Linked DNA regions of Homo sapiens. The protein of the gene in region 2 purifies or fractionates together with the protein of the main gene of each other region. This does not show direct contact. Each region holds a gene or a part of one and is shown on either strand. Other genes may lie near its edges. The genes, in order: ZMYM1, CLSTN2, SLC12A7, LMAN1, NUP37, CUX1 and PC.

Region 1 (4,127 bases), on a different chromosome or scaffold from region 2:
GGGCGGATCACGAGGTCAGGAGATTGAGACCATCCTGGCTAACACGGTGAAACCCTGTCTCTACTAAAAATACAAAAAATTAGCCAGACGTGGTGGTGGGCACCTGTAGTCCCAGCTGCTCGCGAGGCTGAGATACGAGAATGGCGTGAACCCGCGAGGCGGAGCTTGCAGTGAGCTGAGATTGCGCCACTGCACTCCAGCCTGGGCGACAGAGCGAGACTCCGTCTCAAAAAACAAACAACAACAACAACAACAACAAAAAACAACCCAGAACAAGGCCTATTGAGTGTCAAAAAGAAAGAAAGAAAAAAAAAGGAATATTATTTCCTGCCTTTGGGAGAAGTCTTCTGTGCTTTCCGTTCTGGTCCCAAGGCAGGATACTCTCAAGATGGGGGCCATAGAAAAGATGTGAGTCACAAATGATCTATTTGAATTATGGCTTGTTTTGACTCCCATCTTCAACTGCTTTTTTTTTTTTTTTTTTTTTTTGAGACGGAGTCTCACTCTGTCGCCTAGGCTGGAGTGCAATGGTGCCATCTCGGCTCACTGCAACCTCCACCTCCCGGGTTCAAGAGATTTTCCTGCCTCAGCCTCCCAAGTAGTTGGGATTATAGGCGCCTGCCACCATGCCCAGCTAATTTTGGTATTCTTAGTAGAGGCGGGTTTTCGCCATGTTGGCCAGGCTGGTCTCCAACTCCTGACCTCAGGTGATCGGCCAGCCTCGGCCTCCCAAAGTGCTGGGATTATAGGCATCAGCCACTGCACCCGGCCAACTGCTTGTTTTTAAGGAAGTCTGTATAGGGATAGAGTTGGGTCTCAAAATATGATATGAACAAGCAACATATCTAAGAAGTCCCACCTCATCTCATTTGCTCTTTCTCTGCTCTCAGAAGCACCCACCCAGAGCTTGTCTATCAGAAATAGGGACAAATAATACTAATCTCACTGGATTATTTCCTCCTATGACTGACTCAGAGAAAGCATGTGATATTTTTTGTTTGTTTTTTTAAAGACAGGTTCTTGCTATGTTGCTCAGGCTGGTTCTGAACTCCTGGCTCAACTGAACCTCCCGCCTTGGTCTCCCAAAGTGCTGAGATAACAGGTGTAAGCCACCATGACTGTCCACATGTGACATTCTTGATTCATCTTTGCATTGTTTGGTGTAAGAGTTAAACACGTGGAATTAAAAACAAAAACATGGCTAGGCTCACATCTGTAATCCCAGCACCTTAGGAGACCAAGGCAGGAGGATCAGCTGAGTTCAGGAGTTGTAAGACAAGCTTGGGCAACATAGTAAGAGCTTGTCTCTACAAAAAAATTAAAAATTAGCCAGGTGTGGTGGTGTGTGCCTGTAGTTCCAGCTACTCGGGACGCTGAGGTGGGAGGATCACTTGAGCTAAGGAGGTCAAGGCTACAGTGAGCCATGATTGCCACTGCACTCCAAGCTGGCTGACAAAGACCTCGTCTCAAAAAAATCAAAATAAATAAAAAAAATAAATAGCTGGGCACAGTGGCTTACGCCTGTAATCCCAGTTCCTTGGGAGGCTGAGGCAGGAGAATTGCTTGAACCTGGGAGGCGGAGGTTGCAGTGAGCCAAGATTGTGCCACTGCACTCCAGCCTGGGCAAGACAGCGAGACTCCGTCTCAAAAAAAATAAATAAGGTCAGGTGTGGTGGTTCATGCCTGTAATCCCAGCACTTTGGGAGGCCAAGGCAGGTGGATCACGAGGTCAGGAGATTGAGACCATCCTGGCTAACACAGTGAAACCCCATCTCTACTTAAAATACAAAAAATTAGCCAGGCGTGGTGGTGGCGGGTGCTTGTAGTCCCAGCTACTTGGGAGGCCGAGGCAGGAGAATGGCATGAACCCGCGAGGCAGAACTTGCAGTGAGCCGAGATCGCGCCACCGCACTCCAGCCTGGGTGACAGAGGAAGACTCCATCTCACCAAAAAAAAAAAAAAAAAAAAAAAGAAAGAAATAAAATAAATACATAAAAATAAAAACAAAAATACTTTTGTGTTTGGGTTTTATTGACCAGCAGACTATTGTTATTTTTGCTATACTTATTTCTAGTTTATAAACCGGCTCCAGCCTGCCTGCCTTTTCTTTAAGGTGAGATAATCGATCTGAGATTATTTAGGAAAATCTCCATATAGCATTTATCATGAATTCTTATGCAAGAAGAAACCGTTAAAAGCCTTCTATTTCATCTTCATCAACTTATCGACATTATTCCAAAGGGTACCAAAAACTACTTCCCACATTTTCCTAGAGTGAAACCATTCATAGGCCAGTTAATAGAAGAAACAATAGGTCTTTATTCATACCTGCTTATATGCTGTAATACTCTTTGAACTATTAAAGTAATGAGACTGTCCTTCCATCTGAAGTATGTGGGACAGACTAGAGCTGGTGTAACAGTAAGTGCCACAGTTCTCACAGCAGTTCATGATGAAGTTGTTAGCAGAGTGAAACTTTGAAAGGCAGGCATTACTGCAAAGATTATGTTTCACATTTTGGTATTTTACTTCATACTGAATCTAGGATTTAATAAAAAGATTCAGTAAAAACTCTGATATTTAAGCAGAATCATCAGAATCCCTGTAAAGGTTATAATTGGAACTTACAATAGCAGTCTTCTGGCACATGCTGCACTTGGTCAAAATGCTATTAGTACATATGGTAACAAATGGTTTTCTTTTTTCTTCATATGATGAAAGACAAGATAGGCTGCAAAAAGTTTTGCAAGAGGTAGTGTCTTCCAGCTGGACACTAATCACATCCTTTGGATTTAAAATGTCTCTAAGAATAAATAACAAGGACATCATTAAACAGTTTAAACACAATTATAACTTCTCTTTATAAATGAAATGACCTCTCAAATTAGAGTAAGAACATTAGCCTTGAAATAAGAAAACCTGAATTTGGTACCCAGTTCTGTCACATTTATACTCCCTAAATTTTAATTTTCTCATCTATACATTACAGATTATAAAGCACATCTAATAGTGCAGTTTTGTTTTTTAAGAGATAGGGTCTTGCTGTGTTGCCCAAGCTGGCCTCAAATTCCTGGGCTCAAGAGATTCTCCCACCTCAATCTCCCACATAGCTAGGATTACAGGCACATAATCCCACCATGCCTGACTTTGAAGATGTAGTTTTGGAGACTAGCCAGCCTGTATTATTAGGTGGTGCTAGTGAAAACCGAGGGATGATGAGAGATCACATATTCACATGAGCAACTCTAGAATCTATAGGACAGAGAATCTTAAAATATGGTCTTCAAATCCCTGGGGGAGTCCCCAAGATCAAAACTATTTTCATAGTAAGATGTTATTTGCTTTTTCACCGTGTTGATGTTTGCAACATCACTTTGCAACTGATGTTGCAAAGCTAATGGTAGGACCCTGCAATCCCACTCCTTGGTAAACACCCAAAAAAACTGAAAACAGGTACTCAAACAAGCACATGTACGTGCATATTCATAACAGCACTATTCACAATGGTCAAAAGATGAAAACAGCCCAAATGTTCATCAGTAAGTGAATGAATGAATAAGCACATTGTGTTACATACATACAGTGGAATATTATTCGCCTATTAACAAAAAGAATAAAGTACTGATACATGTTACAACATGGACAAACCTTGAAAATATTATGCTAAGGGAAAGAACCAGACACAAAAAGTCACTGCACTCTAGCCTGAGCAACAGAGTAATAATACCCTGTCACAAAAAGGTCATATATGATTCCATTTACATGAGATATTCAGGATAGATAAAATCTATAGATATAATGCATACTGGTGGTTGACAGGCACTGGGGGGAGAGGGAAATTAGGAGAAACTGCTTAGTGTTTAAGGTGTTTTACTTTGAAGTGATGGAAATGTTTTGGAACAAGATAGAGGGGATGGTCACACAACATTATGAATATACTAAATGCCAATGAAATGGTTAATTTCTTGGTATACAAATTTCACTTCAATGAATTTGGAAAAGAAAAAAGGCAATGGTGGGTAAAACCGTCAGAGCCTTAGCAGAAATCAAGGCAGTGGCACCAAAATGTGCTAATATTCATGTTATTCCCTGCTATACATTCACTGCCAAAAAAAATTCTTTTTAAA
Region 2 (4,742 bases):
CGGGATTAACTGCTCGAGTCCCTAAAGCAAGAAGCAAGAAGCAAGAAGCACAAAGGCAGAACAAGCTGTGCACCACAGACACAACATCTTACACAAGACTGAAGCTGGGAGCACATGCTTCCAGACAGTTGTTTGGAGGGTGCATTCAACTCTGTCAGAAAGCTTGACTCCAGACTCCCAGTGTTTTTCTACACATGAATACAGAATTGTACGAAAGAAGTATCTGGTTTTTTGTTCAATCTTCACACGCCTTCCTGATTTTTTTTTTTTTTTTTTTGTGATGGGAATAACAATGGTATGAACCTTAAAAATGGCAAAGTCAGAGGCAGGGTGCATTATACACAAAACATACAGCTTTATCATTTCAAACATTCTTCAGAGATCATATGATTTGGAAACATAAAATGCAAGTGCATTGTTATAAGGAAAGTCAGTCCTGTAAATACTAACTAAAGTGTCATAATAAATGTCTCTGTTGTAATCAAATATTACACATTTATCTTGAAAAAAAAATCAGCAGCAAACAGAGCTCTTTGCAGCCCCCCAGTGGTTGGAAGGGGAAAGAAGCGAGAACAAGGGGAATTCGGACAGTTAACTCTCAATCTGCAGGGCCAATAAACTTTTTACCCTGGAAAAACAAATGTCTAGTTTGTTTGTTTGTTTGTTTGTTTTTGAGACGGAGTTTCATTCTTGTTGCCCAGGCTGGAGTGTAATAGCGCGATCTCGGCTCATTGAAACCTCTGCCTCCCGGGTTCAAGTGATTCTCCTGCCTCAGCCTCCCGAGTAGCTGGGATTACAGGTGCGTGTCACCACACCCATCTAATTTTTTTTTTTTTTTTTTTTAGTAGAGACGGGGTTTCTCCATGTTGGTCAGGCTGGTCTCGAACCCCTAACCTCAGGTGATCCGCCCGCCTCGGCCTCCCAAAGTGCTGGGATTACAGGCATGAGCCACCATGCCCGACCTGACAAATGCCTAGTTTTAACCAAAAAATGAATATGTTCTAAGTCGGATGTTGGTTAAAATGCACATAATTATCCACATAAAGTGAATCATTGAAAGCCTGGGGTTTTTATTTTCCTTTTTTATCTCTCTCCTTCTCTTTCTCGCTTACCTCTATGAAGCTTCCCATTCTGACCTGAGAACTCAGCCGTGCATTATTACTACTCACACCAGATCCTCTTCCCAAATGATTTCTTCCCTGTTCTGCACTTGCTGTGTGCTTCTCACCCTCCTTCAAACTCCCGTTTGCAGACATCTGCTTATATCAATTACTGTGCTACAAAGTGATGGGAAATCTCCTCCCCCCCACCCCCCAAAAAAGTAATTTGCCTGTTTAACAAAGTGTCTATATTGGGAAAGCAGGGGGGAGATGTTTGGAAGTTCATTGTTTTTTATTCTTGTCTTCACCAAAACAACAGTCTCTCAGCTTGATCCCTTCATATCAGCCACTTCTTTACCGCACTCTGAGATATTTTCATAACGAGTTTTTCTCTCATGAAATTTCTCATTTCTAAAAATAGAAACTGCCTGTCAAAGATACACCAAGAAAAAAAATGCTGAAAAGAAACAGAATGCCTGCTTATAAAATATTTTCAAAACGATGACACCAAAAAATTTAAAAATTACAGATAAACATAATCTCCCATGTTCTTCTCAAATATATCACTCCTAAGTTATTGGAGGGCCAGTTTCTAAAGCCCAGACAAGGCGAACTGCCTGCCTCCAGCTCTCCCCAACCTCCAAGAGTAATGCAGCCTGATAGGCATTTCCTCCCCTAAGCTAGTGGTCAAGTGTAGCTCAAAGCAAGCGTCCGAATCAGGCTGTCTCTAACAGGGAATCTATTTTCTGACAGGCGCAAACCCCTCCGCCCTCTGATGATTGCCAGGCAGGATTTGGGGACCAAGTACCCCTCATTGTCACCTGGCGGATTTGGCCACAGTCCACAAACCAAACGCAAGCCCTACTTATGAACAGCGCAGAGAATCAACAAGTTATCACTAAGCTGTGCGCCCCAGCTAGGATCTGCCACAGCCTCCCCTGAGCCCACCACTGTTCCCCACCAGCTCTGCTCTTCCCTCGCCTCCCCACCCCCTGCAAGCACGTGACCTCCTGTTTCAGACCCGGCCCCCCACCCCAGAGCTCCCGACGCTCCCAGGCAGCTGTCAAAGTCCGGGGTTCGCCGGCTTCCAGGCTCGCCTGACAGAGCCAGGCGTTCGCTTGGATCTAGCTTCCTTCCGGGCGGGAGGCGCGGGGAGGTCAAGCTCTTCAAAGGAACAGGGTGGGCAGGGGAGTGGTGCCAGGTTAGGCTCCTCGGTCCTCGGTAGTCAGAGCGGAGTAGGAAAGGCAGCGGGGAGCCTCACATCCCGCGCTTCTTCCGGACCCCGCCGCCTACCCGGAGGGTACACGTTCCCCGGGGAGTCAGAGACGCCCTGGGGGAGCTTGAGGAGTGTCAGCGGGGCCTTCCCTGGAGCCTACAAGTTTCCACTCCATCCCCGAGCTGGGAGACAAGTCACAGCTCGGCTCCCTCCTTGAAAGCACCGCCGCTGATCCTTCCCCCAGGCAGGAGCAGACACCTGCTTGTCCCCACGGCGCGCCAGCGCCCTGCTCTAGCCGTCCCTGGGCCAGAGCTCGAAACTCACCCACTGCGCTCCCACCCCGGCACAGACAGCCCTCAAAGTTGTCCGTACTCCCCAGACCTCGCCTTCTGCTCAGCCCCCGGACCCCGCCCAGGGGTTGAGTTGACGTCCGCGGGTGGACCTCTCTGGTCCGCTGCGCAGGGAACTGACTTCGGGAATCCAGGGCGCACAGAGGCCAAAGAAGCTGCGGCAAGGGAGGGTGGGCAAATCCAGCTTGAGCCTAGGTCCTTGCCGCTTTCACCCTCAAGCCTGCCCTGCCTCCCTCCTGGGAGAAGAGCAAACTTCCCCAGCACCCACCTTTAGCCGCGAGGAGGCGGCGCTGCCGGCTGTCCCCGCCACCGCCGCTGCCGCTCCCCACGCCCAGCGCCAGCAGGAGCGGCACCCAGCACAGCCGCCCAGGCAGCATCCTCGCAGCAGCCGCCAACGAGCTGCAGCCGCCGCCTACTGTCCGCGCCGGCTCTCGCCTCCCGGTGCCTGCCGCACCGTGGGCCGCCTCGCCGTGCCCGATGGGTGCGCTTCTAGCGCTGCCGCCGCGGCGCTCGGCCTCGGGTTCCCGCCGCTGCGCCGCTAGCTCGCCGGCAGCAGCCGCGCTCACTGGCGCGGACCCGGAGCGGCTCAGGCGCTCACCCCGGGACGGCCCGTGACGTCACGGAGGGAGGGAGGTGGCTCGTGCATATTCATGAACGCGGGCATCGGCGCCGGGTTCCGCGCTCCCCGCCCCAAGGCCCCGACCCCCAACTTTCCTCAGCCGTCTCCACGCTCCGGGGCCCTGTCCAGGTCCCCCTGCCCAGTCGGGACCGGGCCCCCAGAGGACCCTGGTGGGCGGCTCCGGAGAGCCCTCCAGCCCCGCGCCTCCACTCCGACTCTCGGAAAAGCTGCCGCAAGGGATGGAGGGCTCCCCCAGAAAGTGGCCACCCGAGGCCTGAGGGTCATCTGGGGTGGCGCGAGGGACCCTGACCTGCCATGCCCTTTGAACTGATATCTGGGCGGAGAGGACTGACGGGCGTCGCTAAGGGTCTTGCCCTTGGCTGGGTCTCTGGGCGTTCTGCGTCGACTGGTCTGGGGAGGGCGCCAGGCGCACACTAGAGCAGCGCCTAGTGGTGCTAGGGGTTGTCGGGCAGAGTAGATAGCCTTGGACCTGGATGGCAATGGCAGGGCTCCGCGTCATCTCCGAGAAGCAGGGGCAGCCGCGGCTCTTAGAGGCTGATAGAACAGCTAGATCAGAAAACTTGGGGTGCTGGGCCTGCTGAGGCTGCAGTGGCGGGGGCGGGGTGTCAAACTTAAAATTCCCTGCGGTATGGTGCCATGCAAGAAGTTGCCACCTTTATGTTGTCACTCCGCATCTCTAAGAACAGGCTACTTGACGTCATGCATTGTAAAATCTCGTGCCGTTGAGTATTGTCAGTTCCCTGAGTGCAGGAGCCAGTGCATATCTTTGCATCCTCAACCATCTCTAGGCCGTGAAAAAATTACAAAGGTACTCAAAAAAAAAAAAAAAAAAAACAGTAAGGACTCAGAATAAATCCTTGACCATATTTACCTAAATGAAATGCCAACATCACACACAATGCAGGGTTTATGAGGAATAGTTTGGAAATAAAGTAGATATGGAAATACAGAAACAAACAATATTATTTATTTAGTCATTGATTCAAGACGTTTGCTGAGCATCTAGACAGGCTGTATCACCCTGACAGTGAGCACTGGATTAGTCGTTGGAGATCCAAAGACAGAGGAGAGAGTGGGTCCTATCCTCAAAGCTTTTGTTCCCTGCTTGGGGAGCCAGAGAGGGCAGCAAAGGCAATTACAATCCCTTGTAAGTGTTATGGTCCTGCACATTCTTTATGTTGCTAGCTATGAGCCTATACAAATCAATTAACAAAATGTATATATTGCAAGAGTGCCTAAACAGCATCCTCTAATTAATAACTGTAGTTTGAGGTACTCAACAAAGCCATAAAATCCATTAACAGCACTCCTGCAGCTCAGCCTCCCTCTGCTGCCCTGGCAGCTCACTCAGAGCCTCTGCAGTGGTGAAAGCCAACTCTTCAGGATTTCAGGCACCAGGATGTGCTTGGGGACAGCAGTGAATCATGGTGGCTGCA
Region 3 (4,127 bases), on a different chromosome or scaffold from region 2:
CAGTCACCCACCAGCCAAAGGGAACCCTCCCCGCAGGGGTTAGGTCCTGCAGTCACCCACCAGTCAAAAGGACCCTCCCCGCAGGGATGAGGTCCTGCAGTCACCCACCAGCCAAAGGGGACCCTCCCTGCAGGGATGAGGTCCTGCAGTCGCCCACCAGCCAAAAGGACCCTCCCCACAGGGATGAGGTCCTGCAGTCACCCACCAGCCAAAGGGGACCCTGCCGTGGGCCTGCCCCCCGGCACTCCCGGCCAGAGGCTCCAGGACCCTTGGGGAGTCAGCGGCCACAAACAGGGGAAGAGGCAGGGCCTGGACAGCATGGCCAGCCAGGCAGCTCATCGTTCAGGAGCTCATCGTTCAGGCTGCTGCGCTGAAGCCAGAGGTTTATCTGCACAGAACAGGCCTCTGCCCCCAAAAGGGAGTTTCCCCTTTCTTCATAAAGGAAAGGTATTAACCCTTTGTGCTCTGCCCTTGTCCCTGGGCAGCACTTCCCCAGCATCTGAGAAGGAAGGCCAAAGGAGACCAGCCCCCCATGTCAGTTACCAGGAGGGCCCCCAGCCAGCTGCTCACCAGGCCCCAGACACCCCCAGCCCAGCCCACTGCCCTGAAGACCAGCTGGTCCACTCCTGAATGCCGTCCACGCCCAGCCCCACTGGGCTCCACGGGGTTCCCATGCCCCACAGTGGGAGGGGGAGGTCTACCCCTCAAGGCCCTGGCGGGCCTCACACTCCCCAGCACCCAGGGACTCCTGCCCCACCCACCACACGGCCGTCACAAAATGACTCTGGGATCCACCCTCAGAAACACTCAGCTGATGGAGCCGGTTGAAATCAAAAGCACCCAGCCAGGAACTGTGGTTAATACTTAACGTCAAACATCAAACTTTGCCCTCCAGACCTCGGTCTAAGGCACAGCTTAGAAAATTCATATTCTGGCCAGATATGGTGGCTCACTCCTGTAATCCCAGCACTCCGGGAGGCCGAAGTGGGCAGACCACTAGAGGCCAGGAGTTCAAAACCAGCTTGGCCAACATGGCAAAACCCCATCTGCACTATAAATATAAAACTTAGCCAGGCGCGGTGGTGCGTGCCTGTGGTCCCCGCTACTCGGGAGGCTGAGGCACGAGAATCGCTTGAACCTGGGAGGCAGAGGTTGCAGTGAGCTGAGTCTGTGCCACTGCACTCCAGCCTGGGTGACAGAGTGAACTCTGTCTCAAAAAAAAAAAAAAAAAAAAAAAGAAAATTCATATTCCAACAGGGATGGTAACAGGAGAGCCCTCCGGGCAGCCAGCTGGCCTCACAGACGCCATCCATCCCTGGGGTGTCGGCTCCACTCGTGCCCTTCACAGCTGGGGGGTCACCCTGGGCTGACCTCCACTCCCAGTGCTGTGCCCAGCGGTGCCACGTCGGGATGTGTCTGCAGTGCCCAAGGACAGCAGCCCTGGGAAGGCTCCCTGGTCCAAGGTATGAAAGGAAAACAGGATCTCGGGACCCAAACACACTAAGCCACAGGCAAGAGTCAGGCTGGGAACCGGGTCACGCAAGCTGCCTTCCATTTTCTTCCTGTGTAGAAAGCTGCAGGCCTCCCTCATATTTTAGGACCCACAGGATCCTTACACTAAAGCAGTTGTGATGAAACTCACACTGACGGTGGAAATGACAGCTCATCCTCACGGGTGTGGGACCAAGGACAGAACCAGGAGTTGCTGCTCTGCTCGCCGGAGGCAAACGCACACCTCACTGCTTCGCCCACCCTGTACTGACTGTGTCGAAGGTAAATGTGCAGAGTCACTAAGCGTGAGCCGTGAGGGGTTCTTCCTTTACCCCCATGTGTAACACACGGGTTCAGTGAACGCTGATCAAACGCTGCCTGCCTCTTATCTGCCCTCCCTCTTCTTTCTCTTTCTTTCTTCCCCTAATACTCACGCTTTACTCTCTGAATATTCAAGTTCTCAGCCTTCTTTGAGAAGAAAAGCCGGACCACAGGAGTTCCCCGTGGTTCTGTGTTAGGCGTAGCCTTAACCTCGGCAAATAAACCTCTCAAGTGATTGAGGCCCACCTGGGTCGCTTTCTGTGCTTTACAAAGGCCACCCATCCCCCATGCAGGAGCCTGGGCCATCTGGGAATCCCTGGGTCAGGTCCAGGGAGCTGTGTAGGACGTGGCCCCACGTCCAAAGGGCAGAGGCCCTGACAGAGGTGGCCTCACTCCACGGCCCACTCACTGCCGGGCATGAGGGGAGGACAGCCCCCAACTCACCCTCAGGGTCCCTCAGGTGCCTCTGCTTGACTCCAGCCACCACCTGGCAAGGTCTCCGACATTCACCGATCCCCAGCAAACCTGTGTGACTTCGGCCCCGACCAGCCGCCCTGCACCCAGGCCTGAGCACCTGGCCCTCCCCTTGGCACCACCTTCCCGACAGCCATCCAGACCACGGGAGAGGCACTGAGAAAGCCACGCACTCTAAGAAGGGGATCTGGTGTCCAACGCTAGACAGAAAACCACCGTGGAATCCGTTTGGCCTCGCCCACTCAGAGAAGCCTGGGGAGCTTTGCAGAAGAGGAAACCATGAACCTGAGTCCACGAGGCAAAGGTCTCCTCATATGATCAGAGGCCCAGGAGCAGGTTCAGACCTGAACACGAGGCCACACCAGGAGAGGGAGCCCCTCACCACTCACTGATGGGCCTAGACCAGGGGGAGGGAACGGATACCCAACACCCAACACCGCGTGACCCTCTGCTGTGGAGGAAGCCCCAGCCCCTCTCTACCTGCCACAGCATACAAACACACACATACACACACACACGTGAGCATGCCCACAGCACACAGCTGTGCAAGAGCACAGTACACATGTATGCACACGTGTGTACATATATGTGCACATATACACAGTGCAAGCACATGGCTCACACGTGGATACACCTGCACGCTCACAAGGCACATAGGTGCCCGCACACATGGACCCGGCCAGCTGACCTAAAGCACCATGCTTTACCGCATGCCTGCTAAGGAGAGCCTCTTGCCGGGAGACAGCCTGGGAGTATGTCAGGCGCAGGAGGAAGCACAGGCCCCGGCCTGGATGCCCAGCAGCCACGGCGTTCCTGTGTATCTTGTTTCCTTTGGTTTTAAAAAGGGAACTCGATACACAAAATGCATGTCTTGTAGCCTCCCTGCCTGCTCACCACATACCCATGACCTTCCGTTCCCGCAACGCAGTGCCCAGCTGCTGCAGGGGCTCCCGGGCACAGCCGCGGGGTCAACAGCCTGCCTGTCCCTCCTGCTCCGACTGCCTCCCATGTCCGTGTCGGGAACGCCCTCCTGAAATCTGGGCACAACGAGAGCTCTCTGTCCCTACTCGGCAGGACAGAACCTGGACGCTCTGTGTGTGGTCCCCCTATCTAATGCGTGATCCCCCAAGTCCCTGCATCCCCAAAGGGGACCCCAGATCAGCACGACCGGCGTGCACCGTCTCGCCATTCCCAAGGGCAGTGCAGAGCATGGCACCCAGCACCCGACAGGCGAGGACGGCCCAGGACAAAGCGGCAGCTCTAGCTGTCCTCAGATTTTGGGAGGGGGCTCCCAACACGGACACGGTAGGTAGTTGGAGCAGGAGGGACGGGCAGGCCACTGACCACGCAACCGGGCCTCTGTCAGCGGCCAGGGGCAGAGGGAGGCAGGACCGCCCCTGGACAACCGACACGAGCTCAGCCACAGTGGAAAATCTCAGAAACGGAACCCAAAGAGGGAAGTGGCGCCCAAGCCAGGAAGAAGCTCCCGGCAAACCTGGGAGAGCCCCAGCTGAGGGTGGGAGACCTGGGGGTACAAGGCAGGACCCACCCTCTCCCAGCCCAGGGAGCCCCAGACGAGTGGAAGTCCCTCCTAGACAGTGGGTGGCCAGGGCCTGTGGGACCTTGACAGAGGCTCTGCACGCTGCACCTTCCAGACAGGCCGGGGCACTGGCCAGCCCTCCTTTCCCACCCCTCCCAGGGTCTCCGAGGCCTCTGGACGCACCCCTACAACCTGGGAAGGAGTGAGTCTACCCTGATGTGGTCACGGAGGAAGGGTGGGCTCCCCCAAGTCAGTTACAAAACCCACTCTACCCTGAAGTCGGACGAGACGCAGCCGGCCC
Region 4 (4,599 bases), on a different chromosome or scaffold from region 2:
ATGTTTAACATAAAACGGTTCTTAAGATTGAAGGCTTCAATGATAGAATGGCTGGAATTGAAACCTACCTCTGCCACTTACTGTGTGACATTGGGCAAATTATTTAATCTATGCTTCTGTTTCCTCATCTGTAAATGGAAATATTAATGGCATCTACCTTAGAGGGCTGCTGTCAGCATTCAATAAGTTAACATATGTTGAAGGCTTAGTGCAGTTACACACAGAAAGCACTCAGTAAGTGTTTGCCATTTTTATAACATTAATGTTTGTTTAACAAATATTTATGGAATCTTCACTCTGTGCAAGGCATAGAGCTGGTTGCCAGAGCAATGAGAGAACCAAAGAAAATAAAATGATTAAATCCTATGGGTTGAAAACCATGGAGAGTCCAGGGCAATGACGCACATACACCATACAGTGGATAAATGTTTGTTACTGCTGCTGCTGAGATAGCAGTAAGTATGGTACTTTCATTTAAATTACATCTCGAGACTAGCAGGCGGAAAGCCTTAAATCCATATTCAACTTGAAGGTTTTATTTGAGCACTAGAAAGAGATTTAACAGTAATGGCCCATGAATCCGAAGATGGGATTCAACTTCCAAAACTGGGAAGTTAATGAAAAATAAGTTTAAGTAATGCGGGTATTGAGTCCCTAGGGCTAGTGTGGCGTTCATGTAGCCCACACGAACAGAGCTAATAAAAAGCCATGTGTAAAAACAATATAAATCATACTGCTGTTTCTTGGACTTGAAAAACTCATCATGACACATTTTTGAAAAAACAAAACTTTGGATTACCATGAATATTTTGACGATATTTTTTCCTAAGCAAGGGAAAGAGGAGTCCCCTTTAAAATATAGAACGTATTCATTGAGTGGAAGACCGATCCTATATCAAATGTCCAGGTTCTACAGACGCCTGGGTCCATAGCACATTATCCCTCTCACCAAAACCAAACCAAACCAAAGTCAGTTTCATTTGAATGCACTCTTGCCATGGTTTCAAAATTTGGAAAGCTCTTGGAATTAAATTTTGAGATGTAAAGGCTGGCTGACAAATTCACAGAAACCCTCTTTCCGACACCAACTTATAAATCCTAAGGCATCCTACAACCCCGTGGGTGCTGGTTTCTAGTTTGCAACGCTCTAACATAGCTTGGTAGAGCTCAGTGGGCTGGGACCATAAGCATTCGGGATTGTGCCACTGAAAAACTGATGTCACATCAAAAGGAACACCTTTCTTCTAATATACTAAAAAGGTTTTGTACAGGCTGGGTCCAGAGGTCTTAGGGCTAGCCAATTCCTGCTCCCAGGTATTCTAAGAAGCCGGAGAAAGCTCCCTGCAGGTAAGGACCCATCGGCGCTTCCCGCACTCTGCCGCGCGGGAAGCGAAGGTTGGAGTCCTTTCCCCACCCCCGGAGGGTGGGCGGGGCCGAAGGACCGCACCGCCCCAGACCCGCCCCCTGCGCGTGGCCCCGCCCACAGCTGCTCCTGGCCGTGCGGCCGCGCGGAAAGCGGAGGCCGGGGGCGGGGCTCACCCCTTGCCCTTGGGGGTCCCCCGGGCTCTGCCAATCAGCGAGCGCCCTGTTGGCCATCCGCAGCCATCCGCGCCCCTCCCTCTCCCGCCCTCCTCCGCGTTCCAGAATCCAAGATGGCGGGATCCAGGCAAAGGGGTCTCCGGGCCAGAGTTCGGCCGCTGTTCTGCGCCTTGCTGCTGTCACTCGGTCGCTTCGTCCGGGGCGACGGCGTGGGAGGAGACCCCGCGGTCGCGTTGCCACATCGCCGTTTCGAGTACAAATACAGCTTCAAGGGGCCGCACCTGGTGCAGAGCGACGGGACCGTGCCCTTCTGGGCCCACGCGGGGAGTAAGCCGGAGCAGAGGGCTGGGGGCCGGGTTCCTCTCCCCCTTCTGCTGCCTCTTCGCCTTTCATCCGCGGCTACCCTGGTGTGCTGAGGTTCCCGTTCCAGCAGCTGCACACCATATGCGCTGTGGAGGGGACCCTCCTGGCAGCCCCTCCGCCGGGTCCCTCCTGGTTCGCACGGTTCCCTCCGCTTGTCCCCGAGTCTTTCCCTCACCCATTCTGTTCTCTCTCACCCGCCTGCTGTCTTCCCTTCTTTGATCTCGTCGGTACTTTCCGTTGGATCTAGAGGTGTTTGGTTACCTCCTACACTTCCTAGCACTCAAACTTGCTTCTAGGTATCATGTTTCACAACGCCACGTCTCTAGGAGAAATGTGCCCTACCCCCAGCCATCCCAACCTGAGACATGTTCTAGAAGCCCCCTTACTTCCTTTCCCGCTTCCACCCCCCACCCCCGATCCCCGATTTCTTTGCTCCGGTGTTAGCAATGGTTAATGCTTCGCTTGAACCCCATGCCCACTGACGGCTCCTGAGATGGCATATAGTAGTATTAGAGTAATTTTTTAAGTCTTTGTATGTCAGAAGACATTCTTATACTGTTGGAACTACACATTTTCCTCTCAGTGACTTGGTGTGGTCTTTGATCTTTTCTCTCGTAGTAACACATTATGTAACTTTTTAGGAGAAGGGATATATTTTTAGGGATTGATTGTTTCTGAACCTGAGACTAAGAATAGCATTACATTTTTAGCCCTTTAAAAAAATTGGAAGCATTGAAATAATCTTGGGTTCATATTTTATTCACTCTCTGTGTTTGGCACTTTTGTAGATAAGAGAGCCTTGCTAGAGCATTTACTTACGTGAAAGAAAACATATCTGCACTTTTTAGTGCTGATGTGTCACTGCTGACTAAGGAGTCAATCGTAGCACTTGGCATGACATAAGCTCTGTTCAGTGACCATCAGATATACCCGTTGAACAAGTGGCAAATGCCTTTATATGAGATGAGGAGCTCTGGCAGTTTGAATTCTATCTTTGTGTGTGATTAATCTTTTTTTTTTTTTTTTTTTTTACTATAAGGTTTAGGGTACATGTGCACAACGTGCAGGTTGGTTAGTATGTATACATTTGCCATGTTGGTGTGCTGCACCCATTAACTAGTCATTTAACATTAGGTATATCTCCTAATGCTATCCCTCCCACCTCCCCCATAAGTAATCTTTTATATAAGGTTTTTATACATCACTTTAGATTATCCAGTTCTTGAAACAAAATGTTTCATTTCTAGAAAGTAATTACTGAATAGGAAGCACCCTTTTAGGAAGCGCTATTTCTCTCAAATTAATGTGTAATTGAAAGGTATAGATTTTAATTTGACTTAATGACCAAGTCATTAAGTAGTTGAAGTAGAGTGCAGTTATTTCGTTACTCAGCAGTCATTTATTATGTGCCCATGCAGCAAGGGTATATTACTGGGCATTTGTTATCAAGGTATCTCTATTCTTGATACACAAAGGTGATGCAAATGATATCAAACACAAGTTTTTGGAGTTTTTGTTTCTATTTGTGGGATGATGAATTATTCAGTAGTGATGGATTTGTTCACACATTTTCACTTCTACACCTCTCCACTGCCTGCCTGTTCTTCTATCCCTTTTCTCTTTTTCTCACACTCACATACACTACATTAGCCAATTAGGAATGTTAATCAACTAGTCAAATCAGCTACCTTGACTTCCTTTACAGAGCCGGAACCAACTAATCTATTCTGCTGCAGAAATGTCAAGATAATGTACCAGTAAATTAAAGCCGTGTGGCTAGAATGAATTTGAAACAAAGTATTAGTATTTTAGCCATGATTTATCTGGCTACTGGCTCTGGGAATCTCTGCTATAGACATCCCTTGCTTTCATTGTCACTGTAGTTTTTGCATAAGCCTCACTGTAACTACATTGATCATTTTTTTCTTTTCGTTTTGCTCTGCAATTCATTACTTTAAAAAAAAAGTAGAGAAATTTAAGATCTAGTTTAAACACAGCCCTTTACCTTCAACCCCAAATTAAGACCAAATCTATGGTGTTTCTCTTTCTTAACTCTAATGTTCCTTTAGTACACTTAAGGCCATAAGGGCAAAAAATGATAATTTGTAACCCTTTATAGCTCTCAGAGTTCTTTCACTTTCATTCTCTGATTTGATCCTTAGTAGACAAGGCGGGTGTTATCTGTTTTATAGATGAAAAACTGATGTTCAGAAAGGTTAAGGTTTTTGAAAAAGGATACATAAGTAGTAAGTGTCAGTGAAGTTGAACTCAAATCTAGGTCTTCTGATTCTGTGTTCAGTCTCTTTCCATGATGCCCACACCCCATCCTTTGAATGTTTGTAAGTAACAGTGAACAGTGACTGATCCTACTAAAGTATCTCAGCTTTCCTTTTTGTCAACTTTTTTCTACCTGTAAAGTGAGATTACAGTTACAGTTGTATTTCCCAGCATGGGTTTCAGAATTAGTTAATATCTGAGAGCTAGAATTGTTCAAATTTTAAGTCTGATAGACCTTTAGTAATTACCTAGTCTAATAATAGGAGAAATAGCTAACATTTATTGAAACATTTAAAGCTACTTGTGTAGGCACTTAAATACCTATGAGGCTGTTCAAGAAATGGAGTAACTTGCCTACAGATCAAACAGCTAGTAAGTAGTAGAGCTGGGGCTTGAACCTAGCCTGGAGATGTAAACCAC
Region 5 (3,500 bases), on a different chromosome or scaffold from region 2:
GATAATAATTTTCTGTACTTATATATTTGGAAGGCTACATTTTCTGTGAGTTTCATTTAAAAAGGTGTGGTAGGCATTATAAAATGTTTGTTAGAAAGGCAGTGTTGGAACTGATAAAGACCAACTTTAATGAGAACCCAATTTTCTTATAAACTTGCACAGATCATAGAATAGTAAAATTAGATGGAGTCTTAGATAAAATGTAATCTATCATCTTCCATAATAACATTTTGTATTATCAGAGGTACCTTTGTTCACAGTACGACTCTTTATTCTGTTTGATTCAGAATTTGGCAATTTTCAATACAACACATACATTTCATGAACCTATTCAGGTCACAGATTGTTTTAAAATAGTGTTCCTAGGGCAAAATTCTGCTAGCTGATTATAATATAGTGTCTTTCTTGGAAATGTCAAAGTGAAACATCAGAAAATATGCATAGATCAAAATATTGAGGTTATTTTAAATTTTCTTAAGTAAGCACTGGGTCTGCTCTTTACAGTACAGAATACATATTGTAGAACTGCTCATATGATATACTCTCTTGTCACATATGTGATAATGTAAGAATATATATGTGATATTGTAAGAATCTTACATTATCACATATGTCCTCTTAGAATTCCTTCTTTCCTTGCTATGAGAGTGTATGATACTATCTACTCTTTCTCATTTTAAACTTGTTTTTATATACGTTCTGTTTTTAAAAAAATCTTACCTATATTGCTTAGGTTTTGGCCTAAGAGGTTTGGCTTTAATAACCAATCAGAGTTGTTTATTTTTGGTTGGTGAACTAAGCTGTAAATTCTAAAAATACTCCTAGTTTGATGTTGTGCATCAACCCGAAAATCTCGGTGGTTTACAGAAATAAGCATAAATTTCTTGCACATGGGTCTATGGGAAGCTCTGTTTCCATAATGCCATATGGGTCCATATCTGCTCCACGTGTTTCTCATTCTGGGATCAGTAGCTATCTAGGACATGCTCATCTCATAGCAAATGACAGAGCACAGGAGGTCAAGTCAAGCCAGGCAAAACATTTGAAGCTTCTGCTGTGTCACACCTGTTAATGCTACATTGGCCTAAACAATTCACAAAGCTAGGGCTAATTAGATGGGAAAATCTCCTTTCATGGGAAGGTGAAAGGAAAGCAAATATTTGTTGAACAATAATATCAACAACCAGTCTGGCAAAATGAGAAACTTAGAGGCAATGTAGTCAGGTTTTTAAAAAATTAAATTTATTTAAACTAAAAGACTTACTCTTTAGTTATTCCTTTCCTACTTTTTAGAGTAATAATGTCCTTTCTTTTACAAAATGATAGTGGTAGAAGGCAGTAAACTTAAGTCTTATATTCGACAAAATAAAAAGTTAGCAACCCTATGTCAGTCCCCTAAATTTTTAGAGAATTTTGCTAGTTTACAAAAAAAATCTCAGAGTCATAAGAAAACAAACAAACAAAAACATAGACTACTGAGTGTGATCCTAGGTCTCTCCGGCTTTCGTTCACTATTCAGAGGCCATTCCTTGGCTTGCAAAGACACTCATTTTTCCCCTTTGCAGGTTTCATTATTCCAAATGCTTGTGATTAGGAAAATCTATGTTTTAAAGAGCTGAAATGCCATTATTTATTTCCAGTGACCGAATTTTTACCTTAAAACGATTCCATTTACTCTTCAGGTCACTATACAAACTTGGTTTTGTAGTACCTGGGGCCCTAGAATCTTAATGTCATGTAAATCTTTCATATCTCTGACATGAAAATTTTAACAGGCAGTACATAAAGAATAATGGCCTATGACTCTATCACTTTAAAAAGATGAGCTATATTAAGAAGATTAAAAATTTAAAAAGTAGCTAGCAGCTTTACTTCTAATGTGAAGTCATACATATTTCATAGTTTTATATGTACATAAGTACTAATAAATACTAAGGATTTTGGCATAGTTTTATGAAACATTATGCAAAACAGCAGAGCAGCAGTTTTTCTCTCCCTCACAGTATCGTTAAAGCAAATGAAGCAACTGACACCCTTCCAATGACTGATGCACTCATTTCACTCCTGACTCCTCAGCTTATTTCCACCTGCTATTCTTCCTTTTCATCTTGTTCTTTATTTGTGATATTCTCCAGCTTTACACACTATTAAAATGTTATAGCTACCTCATCTGTTCTAAATTAGGGGGTGAGGTAGAAGAACATAATAGTTAAATGTATTGTATCTAAAGAAAACCTTATGCAGAAACCTCTGAATTTATCAAAACACTAAATTTTCCATCAATCTTATGTAGCAGATGAGAGTCATAGTTCATTATTCCACACAAACTTATCATACAGCATCTGTAAAGTAACTTGACAACTGCATTTTACTCCTACTTATCTTGTCCAATATTGAAGAATTTGATCCAATATGTTTGTGTTTTTTTTTTTTTTGAGATGGAGTGTCGCTATGCCACCCAGGCTGGAGTGCAGTGAAACAAGCTTGACTCACTGCAACCTCAGCCTCCCAGGTTCAAGCGATTCCCTTGCCTCAGTCCCCCGAGTAGCTGGAATCACAAGTGCGCACTACCGTGCCTGGCTAATTTTTGTATGTTTAGTAGAAATGGAGTTTCGCCATGTTGGTCAGGCTGGTCATTAACTCCTGACCTCAGGTGATCTGCCCACCTTGGTCTCCCAAAGAGCTGAGATTATAGGCATGTGGCACTGTGCCCAGTCCAATATAGATTTGGATTTCATAAATGTGAAAATCTGAAATAAGAGATAAAAGACACCCATGGGAGGCAAGGAAGTTTTCATTAATGGTGATGAGGACTATCTCACTGGTTTTGAAACTCATGTTTGTGCCATACCTACAGTTCAAATAAGGTATGCTTCTTTTACAACACTCTATAGAATTTATGTAAAAGTCACATTTTTTTTTCTCATTTTAAAAATGTAATTCTCATTAAAATGGCAATTTAAAAATGTGGTTATAACATAAGCAACATACCTGCAGGTGTGATCGTCACTCACACTTGCAATTTCTTGGCCTTCTTTGGGATCAAACACCAAACCATTAATGAAATCGGTATGGCCCTCTAAAACCTGACAGAAAGAGAAACAGAAAGCTTAGCAAGAAAACAGAAAAATAACCTACAATATTCCTACATAATATTTTTGCTTCACTGCCTTAAAAGCTTTCACTGCCTGTTTTTCTATAAATATTTCTTAAGCAATCCGCTATTTTTAAAGCACGATTTATACACCCACTTTTCTAGAAGGTTTATCTTGGGAAAAAAATTGATCATTCAACACACTATTAGCTTAGTCTTTCTTTTCTAGTATGCATTTCTTACAAAAACACACACACACACACATTTTTATTGTACCTGTCCTCATATCACCTCCTTTCTCACTTATTATATAAAGCCTAAATAAAAATTAGAGCTAGAAAACTTTTTAGGGGTACCGAGGTAGGGTACCTCTAGGCTTTTTACATTATATCTGCTGTTCTGCATA
Region 6 (4,127 bases), on a different chromosome or scaffold from region 2:
GTGAAACCCTGTCTCTACTAAAAACACAAAAATTAGCTGGGCGTGGTGGTGCACACCTGTAATCACAGCTACTCGGGGGGGCTGAGGCACGAGAATCACTTGAACCTGGGAGGTGGAGGTTGCGGTGAGCGGAGTTTGTGCCACTGCACTCCAGGCTGGGCGACAGAGTGAGACTCCGTCTCAAAAAATAAAATAAAAAGAGTTGATATTCGTTCTGTCTTAAAGATATTAAACTATGTTAGAGAAAACAAAATCATGGCAATTCATTAGGGAGAAAGCCCCAGTTTAAGAAAAATTGTCTTGCTTTTGGGGGGAAATGGAAAGAAGCTTTTGTGTTGCATTTTGTTTTTCGGTTTGGTTTGGTTTGGTTTTTTCATATGCTGGGTGGACAGGATCTGAATGTCTTACATTTAACAAAAAGCTGTCAACACCCAGATAAATTTTTAATGACGGTACGACAGGCATTCTATTTCTCACTGTTTCGCAATACTCACTTAAGAAAGAGCTAATTTGTCAATTTGTTTTTCCCTTAACCAAACTCGGAACACCTCATAACCCATGGTTTACTTGTTAAAAAAATGTTAACTGCATTTCCTTATTGAATAAACACAGCCCAATAGAAAGGTATCTATAAGAAAACAAGCAGTGTGCCAGCATCCACTCAAAGTAACCCCAAGAAAGAACAAGCCACTTCCCTGGTGTCTCAGAGTAAGCTCTGTTAATTTCCTGCTTTGTTAACTGCATCAATCACACACGGTCAAGACCATCCAGACCATCCAAGATCTCAAGCTTCGGCTGATGGAGTCGGCCAGGGCCCGGTCCACTCTGGGGGGTCGTGTGCTTTATAAAGGTTCGGACCCCTTATTGGGCTCATTTTCACAAAGGTTTTCATGAAAGGAAGCAGAACCAAGTCAGTTTCACTTACTAGGAAACTCCCGGCTGGCTAGTTCTTGAGTTGCTGGCAGTGTTAGTAAATCCCTAGGAGGAACACCACCATCCTTGGCTCCGTTCCAGTCACCTGTGTGATTATGTTTCTCTGTGTAGGAAGACCCCTGAGGGTGGGATCTGTACCAGTCCTGCTTGTGGGGTCAGCCAGGGATTGGGCGACGAACTTTGTGGCCACAGTACCTGCACTTCCCATGGCCCGAGGCTCTAATCAACACAAAATTTCTGCCAACGGTCCTGGGCCTCCTGCAGTTAGGAAATGCCGTTGGATTAAAATAAAGAAATTGACAATCTTTATTTTGTGCACTAACATCATCCTCTCTGAATTTAATTACAACAAAATTAAAATTATTTTTATTAGAGAGGCATTAGCTTTTTAAAGGGAAGGTTCTTGACAGGTTTTACAACAAATTAGATGTCTTTTTTTTTTTTTTTTCTGAGACAGAGTCTCGCTCTGTCACCCAGGCTGCATGCAGAGCAGTCACACGATCTCAGCTCACTGCAACCTCCACCTCCTGGGCTCAAGCAATTCTCATGCCTCAGCCTGCCGAGTATCTGGGATTATGGATATGCGCCACCACGCCAGGCTAATTTTTGTATTTTTAGTAGAGATGAGGTTTTGCCATGTTGGCCAGGCTGGTCTCGAACTTCTGACCTCAAGTGATCTGCCTGCCTTGGCCTCCCAAAGTGCTGGGATTACAGGCATGAGCCACCGTGCCCGGCCTTAGACGTCTTTCGAAAAGAATGGTTCACCCTCACTGTGTAATACCCGAATAGGGCAGCACAAATGCTTTTTAAAAATCTTTTAAGTCACAAGCCAGGTGCTTCAAAGCTGTTTCAGGCGCAGGACAAATGAGGGGAACGGCACAGGTTCCCCTCAGTCCTGGTTCATTTCCTGCAGGGAAACCTCCATCCCCGCCAAAGACCACTCTCCTCCATCAACCTTCTCAGAAGACAGCAGAGAAGCTGGACTGATTACAGCTCAGCAAATCCAAAACTGCTCCATACCAAACCTTAGCTGTCCTCAGCAGGAAAATCCAACACTGACACACCATCGAAACTTGGTTCTGAAACACATCCCAAAACCAGGGTGATCGACAGCTTTTCAAGACCACGCCTTGAAAACTGGAATGGGTCAAATAACACAGTCAATCCAGAGGGCCCTGCCATTAATATTTAAGAAAACATCGGCCGGGCACGGTGGCTCACGCCTGTAATCCCAGCACTTTGGGAGGCCGAGGCGGGCAGATCACGAGGTCAGGAGATCGAGACCATCCTGGCTAACACAGTGAAACCTCGTCTCAACTAAAAATAGAAAAAATTAGCCGGGCGTGGTGGCGGGCGCCTGTAGTCCCAGCTACTCCGGAGGCTGAGGCAGGAGAATGGCGTGAACCCGGGAGGCTCAGCTTGCAGTGAGCCGAGATCGCGCCACTGCACTCCAGCCTGGGCCACAGAACCAGACTACATCTCAAAAAAAAAAAAAAACAAAAAAACAAAAAAACTAGCCAGGCATGGTGGCGGGCGCCTATCGTCCCAGCTACTCGGGAGACTAAGGAAGGAGAATGGCCTGAACCCTGGAGGCGGAGCTTGCAGTGAGCCGAGATCGCACCACTGCACTCCAGCCTGGGCGACAGAACCACGTCTCAAAAAAAAAAAAAAAAAAAAAAAAAAGAAAAAAGAAAAAAAGAAAAGAAAAGAAAATAGGGGCCGGGCACGGTGGCTCACGCCTGTAATCCCAGCACTTCGGGAGGCCAAGGCGGGCGGATCACTAAGTGAGGAGATCGAGACCATCCGGGCTAACACGGTGAAACCCCGTCTCTACTAAAAATACAAAAAATTAGCCAGGCCTGGTGGCCAGCGCCTGTAGTCCCAGCTACTCGGGAGGCTGAGGCAGGAGAATGGTGTGAACCCGGGAGGCGGAGTTTGCAGTGAGCTGAGATAGTGCCTCTGCACTCCGGCCTGGGCGAAAGAGCGAGACTCTGTCTCAAAAAAAAAAAAAAAGAAAGAAAATATCCCCCTCACCAAGTTAATACTTTTATGGTTGCTGGTGGAGCTTATATTCTCTAAATGTAGAATTTTTTTGGGGGCGGGGGGGAGTATCTTCTCTCTGAATTCTATATCATTATTGGGGTATAATAAAATGTACCTACATGCTCTGGTCAGTCAAGGTTCATCAAGTCAGAAATCACAAATGAATTCACAAATTCTTTGCTCTAAAGTCATATAACAATGCAGATATTAAATTGCTTGTCTAACTATACCATTAGATTCCTTTTTCACTCCATTATCGGCACACACACACACTTCTCTCGGCATCCAGGCATTCACAGGTATCCAGTTCCTAAAGCGCCCAGCACGACTGCTTTGTCCAGGTAAGCAACAGTGGGACATAAGGAGAGGCTGTGGGGCCCCTCTTCAAATAGCTTCGACAAAACGAATGGCTATAAGTGAAAAGTGTCCCTGGGCTTTGCTATAAAAAGACTCAAACATGGGATTCCAAGAATTCCACCTGTTTCCAATTAGATACCAGAATTGCTTGAGTGTTTAAGCTACACTCGCTTGCTACTTACACAAAACAATTCTTCCGGGTTTTGTGAACATTTTAAATATGTTAAAATAAGATTAAGGGTCTGGTTTAAACAATCGGAGGCAGGGAAATTTCGGTGGAAACCAAAACTCTCTCTCTGCAGCGATAACGCGGGGCTTCAGACAAAACAAAAGGACAAGACAGACAAATTTCTGTCTTTGACAATTATAATAAAAGTCACTTTTCATAGAGCAATTACATTTTTTAAAGTTATGTATTCAATAATTTTAAATAGGTCTTAAGTAATTTCTACAATAACTCACGATCCTGGATCCTGTATATTTGAATAATGGTTAGAGTTGCCTTTTACATACCATTTGTGTTACAATTCGTCAGATATACCTGTCTGTGAAATTTACATGTGACAAATGTGTAAACTATTTGAAATGGAAGCACGGGTAGGAATTTAACCTACCTCTGTAGGATTCTTCATATGATGAATTTCTCTGCTTACGAAATGTATGAGTTTTCCCCTAACAAACGTGTCCTTCCTTCATTTCACTAAAAACAGACGTTCCTGGGGCATTACAGAGGAGCTGAAACAAATGTGGATTTTCTACTTCTAGTCTTGTGTTCTCTCCTAAGACACAGAAAG
Region 7 (4,127 bases), on a different chromosome or scaffold from region 2:
CAATAAACCGGACCCCTGCATCCTGGCAGGCCTGGGCGAAGTCCGCTCGCTCAGAGAGGAACCCGTAGCCAGGGTGCACTGCATCTACGTTGTTCTCCTGCAGGTGGGGGTCAGGGAGAGGACGGTACCTTGCAGTCCCTTCCAAGGCCTCGGCCAGCCTCTTCCCCTGCCTAACCTGCTGAGCTGCATCCGTTTACCCACCCACGCACAGAGGCGCTGAGCACGCCAGCCTCAAGAGACCCCCGCGGCAACTAAGACTCCCTGGTCCCTGCTGTCCAGGCCCAGCCAGGCCACTGGGCTCACCTTGGCCACCTTGATGATGTCTGGGATGTGCAGGTAGGCCTGCACGGGGGCCAGGCCGCGGCCGATGAGATAGGCTTCATCTGCTTTCTGCCGGTGCATCTGGCCCGTGTCCTGCTCAGAGTAGATGGCTACGGTGCGGATGCCCAGCTCCGTGCAGGCCCGGAACACACGGATGGCAATCTCACCTAGAGGGCAAAGAAACAAGAAGTTAGATTCCTAGGTCCTAGGAGAAGCAGAAAGGGGAGTGGGAAGCCAGGGCCTGGGGCAGTGAGTGGGAGAAGAATGCCAAGGCTGGGGCGGCCATGAGGCTCCTCTCACCGGCCCCACTGGTGCTCACCTCTGTTGGCCACCATGACTTTCTTGATGGGCTTATACTCCAGGCGCCGGACATTTGGGGAGGCAGCGGGGGCGGTGGAGGTTCGGCGGATTCCCAGGAGCCTCAGGCCCCCATGGACTGTTCGGAACTTCAGCATCTAGGGAGGGAAGTTAGAGCCCAGGTTAGCGCAGCCTCAGCACTGAGGCTCCTCAGAATGAGTGAGGGCCCTTCCCAACCCCACAGTGGCCCCACAGAAAGGCTAGCACCATCTACCTCCTGATGCCTGGCCAAGCCCAACATTTCCTGGCTCTAGAGAAGGGAGCAAATCCAACCCCAAATGGAACCCCCAGCTCAGCCTGATATCCTAACTGTGACTTTATTGTTGTAGAGACAGGGTCTCCCTATGTTGCCTAGGCTGGTCGCAAATGATCCTCCCACCTCAGCCTCCTGAGTAGTTAAGACTACAGGTGTGAGCTGCCGTACCCAGCATAATATGCACTATAACTTTTAAAAGTATCAGGTTGGCCCACCCTGGCTAACACGGTGAAACCCCGTCTCTACTAAAAATACAAAAAAAAAAAAATTAGCCGGGCGTGGTGGCGGGCATCTGTAGTCCCAGCTACTTGGGAGGCTGAGGCAGGAGAATGGCATGAACCCAGGAGGCAGAGCTTGCAGCGAGCCGAGATCGTGCCACTGTACTCCAGCCTGGGCGACAGGGCAAGACTCCGTCTCAAAAAAAATAAAAGTATCAGGTTGGGCGCGGTGGCTCATGCCTGTAATCCCAGCACTTTGGGAGGCTGAAGTGGGAGGAGCACCTTACATCAGGAGTTCGAGACCAGCCTGGCCAACATGGTGAAACCCCGCCTCTTACTAAAAATATAAAAATTAGCCGGGCATGGTGGCACACGCCTGTAATTCTAGCTACTCAGGAGGCTGAGGCACGAGAATCGCTTGAACCTAGAAGACAGAGGTTGCAGTGAGCTGAGATTGCGCCACTGCCCTCAGCCTGGGTGACATCAAGACTCTGTCCCAGGAAAAAAAAAAAGTATAATACTTCAGGTTGGGCACGGTGGCTCACACCTGTAAACCCAGCACTTTGGGAGGCCAAGGCACATTTGTGTGAGCTCAAGAGTTTGAAACCCACCTGGGCAACATGGTGAAACCCTGTCTCTACAGAAAATATAAAACTTAGCCAGGCATGGTGGCACATGCCTGTAATCCCAGCTACTTGGGAGGGTGAGGCATGAGAATCACTTGAGCCTGGGAGGTGGAGGTTGCAGTGAGCTGAGATGGCACCACTGTACCAGTCTGGGTGACACAGCAAGACTCCATCTTTAAAAAATATATATATATTATATATAATATATTATATATAAAATATAAAATATTATATATAATATAATATAAATATATATAATATATTATATATATTATATATTATATTATATATAAAATATATATTATATATAATATAATATATAATATTATATATATTATATAATATTATATATTATATTATATATTATAATATATATTATATATAATATTATAATATTATATAATATTATATATATATTTAAATCAACTGACGACAACTTATATCCCTGAATGCAAAGAGGCTTCAGAGGTTGGCCAGCCCTTCATTTGTAAAATGAAGGAAACCAAGGTACAGTGGAGACTAAAAAGACAGCTGCCCAGCACAGAGCCCAAGCCAAACCAGACACACTCTTTTCACCCCTGCATCTGGGCCTCATCTAACCATCTGATTCATTTCTTTCTTTTGAGACGGAGTCTCGCTCTTGTTGCCCAGGCTGGAGTGCAATGGCATGATCTCTGCTCACTGTAACCTCTGCCTCCCAGGTTCAGGCAATTCTCCTGCCTCAGCCTCCCAAGTAGCTGGGATTATAGGCATGCACCACCATGCCTGGCTAATTTTGTTTTTGTTTTGTTTCTTTTCTTTTTTCTTTTTTTTTTTGAGACAGAGTCTTGCTCTGTCACCCAGGCTGGAGCGCAATGGTGCGATCTCGGCTCACTGCAACCTCCGCCTCCTGGGTTCGAGTGATTCTCCTGCCTCAGCCTCCCGAGTAGCTGGAATTACAGGCACCCGCCACCACGCCCAGCTAATTTTTGTATTTTTAGTAGAGACAGGGTTTCACCATCTTGGCCAGGCTGGCCTCGACCTCCTGACCTCAGGCGATCCACCTGCCTTGGCCTCCCAAAGTGCTGGGATTACAGGTGTGAACCACCACGCCTGGCTGTATTTTAAATAAAGATGGGGTTTCACCATGTTGGCCAGGCTGGTCTTGAACTCCTGACCTCAAGTGGTCTACCCGCCTCGGCCTCACAAAGTGCTAGCATTACAGGTGTGAGCCACCACACCCGGCCGATCTGATTCATTTCTTAGAAAACGTTTAAAACACTTGACTCAGCCATTTTGTTTTAAGTAAGGAACATAAAAACATACTCAAGAAATGAAACAAATATTGCAAAAACCTTAGTGCCATATTACAGCCAACAACCTAGAAAAGGGGAAATAAAGACAGAAGAAAAAGAAAAGAGAAGAAACAAGGAAATAAGTAGAAGAAAGAGAAGAGGAGGAGGAGGAAAGACCCACAGCCAGGGGAGAAAAACAGAAAACCCCACTAGGGGCAGACCTTATGCCAGGCACAGTTCTAAGCCTTAGGAGTCGAGAACACAACAGTGAAGGGTTCTGCTCATGGAAGATGAATGGCAGTGAAAGGAGCAAAGAAAAGAAAAACAAGACACAAATCAGAACATTTCAGATCACAAGTGCCTGGAAGATAAGAAACAGGTGACATTTTGCGAATGATCTGGGGCGGGTGCAGGGGTTTGGGGGCTGGATATTAGAAAAGGCCTCTCTGAGGAGGGGACACAGAAGCTGGGACCTGGATGGGGAGAAGTCGGCCACGCACAGATCCGCAGAGAAAGCTCCAGGAAGAAGGGATAGCAATTGTGAAGTTCTCAGGAAGAACAGGCTTGGTGCTGTCCTGAGAGAGGGAAGTGTGAGCCCACGGCCTGAGGTGGGGCTGCAGCCACAGACAGGGCCCAGTGGTTGAGGCCTCCCTTCAGCCATGGACAGGACAGGAGGGACATGATCGATGCACAGTGGAAAGGATCTCTCTGGACTGGCGAGCAGCAGGGGCTGACAGACGACGCATGTCTGGGGCAATTCAGAGGCTGAGCTGAGAGACGCGGAGCCTCTGACAGGGGGAAGCTATGGGGGTCGGGGTGGGGCTTAGGAAACATCTGGGCTATGACAGACAAGATTCGTCGAGAGACCCCCCATAGAAAGCAAGGTAGAGGAAGAAATCCTGTATGGGTGGGTGGAGATGACTTTTCCTGCTATAAGAAGGGCAAGACAGAAAAGGCAGGGCTGGGAGTGAGGCAAGCTCACAGAGGGGGAAGAGCAGGGACAAGAACCTGGGCAGCATCACAGGGGCGGTGGTGTCTGAAGCCAGGGAGAGAACAGCCTGGGAGAAGTGGGTCA

What was found.
Region 1: the proteins of CLSTN2 (region 2) and ZMYM1 purify together in Homo sapiens (affinity purification with mass spectrometry; one large-scale study listed by BioGRID and IntAct). This does not show direct contact.
Region 3: the proteins of CLSTN2 (region 2) and SLC12A7 purify together in Homo sapiens (affinity purification with mass spectrometry; one large-scale study listed by BioGRID and IntAct). This does not show direct contact.
Region 4: the proteins of CLSTN2 (region 2) and LMAN1 purify together in Homo sapiens (affinity purification with mass spectrometry; one large-scale study listed by BioGRID and IntAct). This does not show direct contact.
Region 5: the proteins of CLSTN2 (region 2) and NUP37 purify together in Homo sapiens (affinity purification with mass spectrometry; one large-scale study listed by BioGRID and IntAct). This does not show direct contact.
Region 6: the proteins of CLSTN2 (region 2) and CUX1 purify together in Homo sapiens (affinity purification with mass spectrometry, with the first as the bait; one large-scale study listed by BioGRID). This does not show direct contact.
Region 7: the proteins of CLSTN2 (region 2) and PC fractionate together in Homo sapiens (co-fractionation; one large-scale study listed by BioGRID). This does not show direct contact.

Annotation. Positions count from the first base shown.
Region 1 is NC_000001.11:35,102,971-35,107,097, reverse strand, and holds part of ZMYM1 (zinc finger MYM-type protein 1), read right to left. Parts: intron 2,804-4,127; coding exon 2,629-2,803; intron 2,542-2,628; coding exon 2,329-2,541; intron 1-2,328.
Region 2 is NC_000003.12:139,933,676-139,938,417, reverse strand, and holds the start of CLSTN2 (calsyntenin-2 precursor), read right to left. Parts: upstream 3,234-4,742; 5' UTR 3,044-3,233; coding exon 2,935-3,043; intron 1-2,934. UniProt on the Homo sapiens protein: Postsynaptic adhesion molecule that binds to presynaptic neurexins to mediate synapse formation, and which is involved in learning and memory.
Region 3 is NC_000005.10:1,105,238-1,109,364, forward strand, and holds part of SLC12A7 (solute carrier family 12 member 7), read right to left. Parts: intron 2,749-4,127; exon of another isoform or gene 2,257-2,748; intron 393-2,256; exon of another isoform or gene 321-392; coding exon of another isoform or gene 206-320; intron 1-205. UniProt on the Homo sapiens protein: Mediates electroneutral potassium-chloride cotransport when activated by cell swelling. May mediate K(+) uptake into Deiters' cells in the cochlea and contribute to K(+) recycling in the inner ear.
Region 4 is NC_000018.10:59,356,298-59,360,896, reverse strand, and holds the start of LMAN1 (protein ERGIC-53 precursor), read left to right. Parts: upstream 1-1,631; 5' UTR 1,632-1,652; coding exon 1,653-1,866; intron 1,867-4,599. UniProt on the Homo sapiens protein: Mannose-specific lectin. May recognize sugar residues of glycoproteins, glycolipids, or glycosylphosphatidyl inositol anchors and may be involved in the sorting or recycling of proteins, lipids, or both.
Region 5 is NC_000012.12:102,096,115-102,099,614, forward strand, and holds part of NUP37 (nucleoporin Nup37), read right to left. Parts: intron 3,087-3,500; coding exon 2,992-3,086; intron 1-2,991. UniProt on the Homo sapiens protein: Component of the Nup107-160 subcomplex of the nuclear pore complex (NPC). The Nup107-160 subcomplex is required for the assembly of a functional NPC.
Region 6 is NC_000007.14:101,820,161-101,824,287, reverse strand, and holds part of CUX1 (Homeobox protein cut-like 1), read right to left. Parts: intron 1-4,127. UniProt on the Homo sapiens protein: May be involved in intra-Golgi retrograde transport.
Region 7 is NC_000011.10:66,871,384-66,875,510, forward strand, and holds part of PC (pyruvate carboxylase, mitochondrial precursor), read right to left. Parts: intron 777-4,127; coding exon 641-776; intron 489-640; coding exon 304-488; intron 98-303; coding exon 1-97. UniProt on the Homo sapiens protein: Pyruvate carboxylase catalyzes a 2-step reaction, involving the ATP-dependent carboxylation of the covalently attached biotin in the first step and the transfer of the carboxyl group to pyruvate in the second.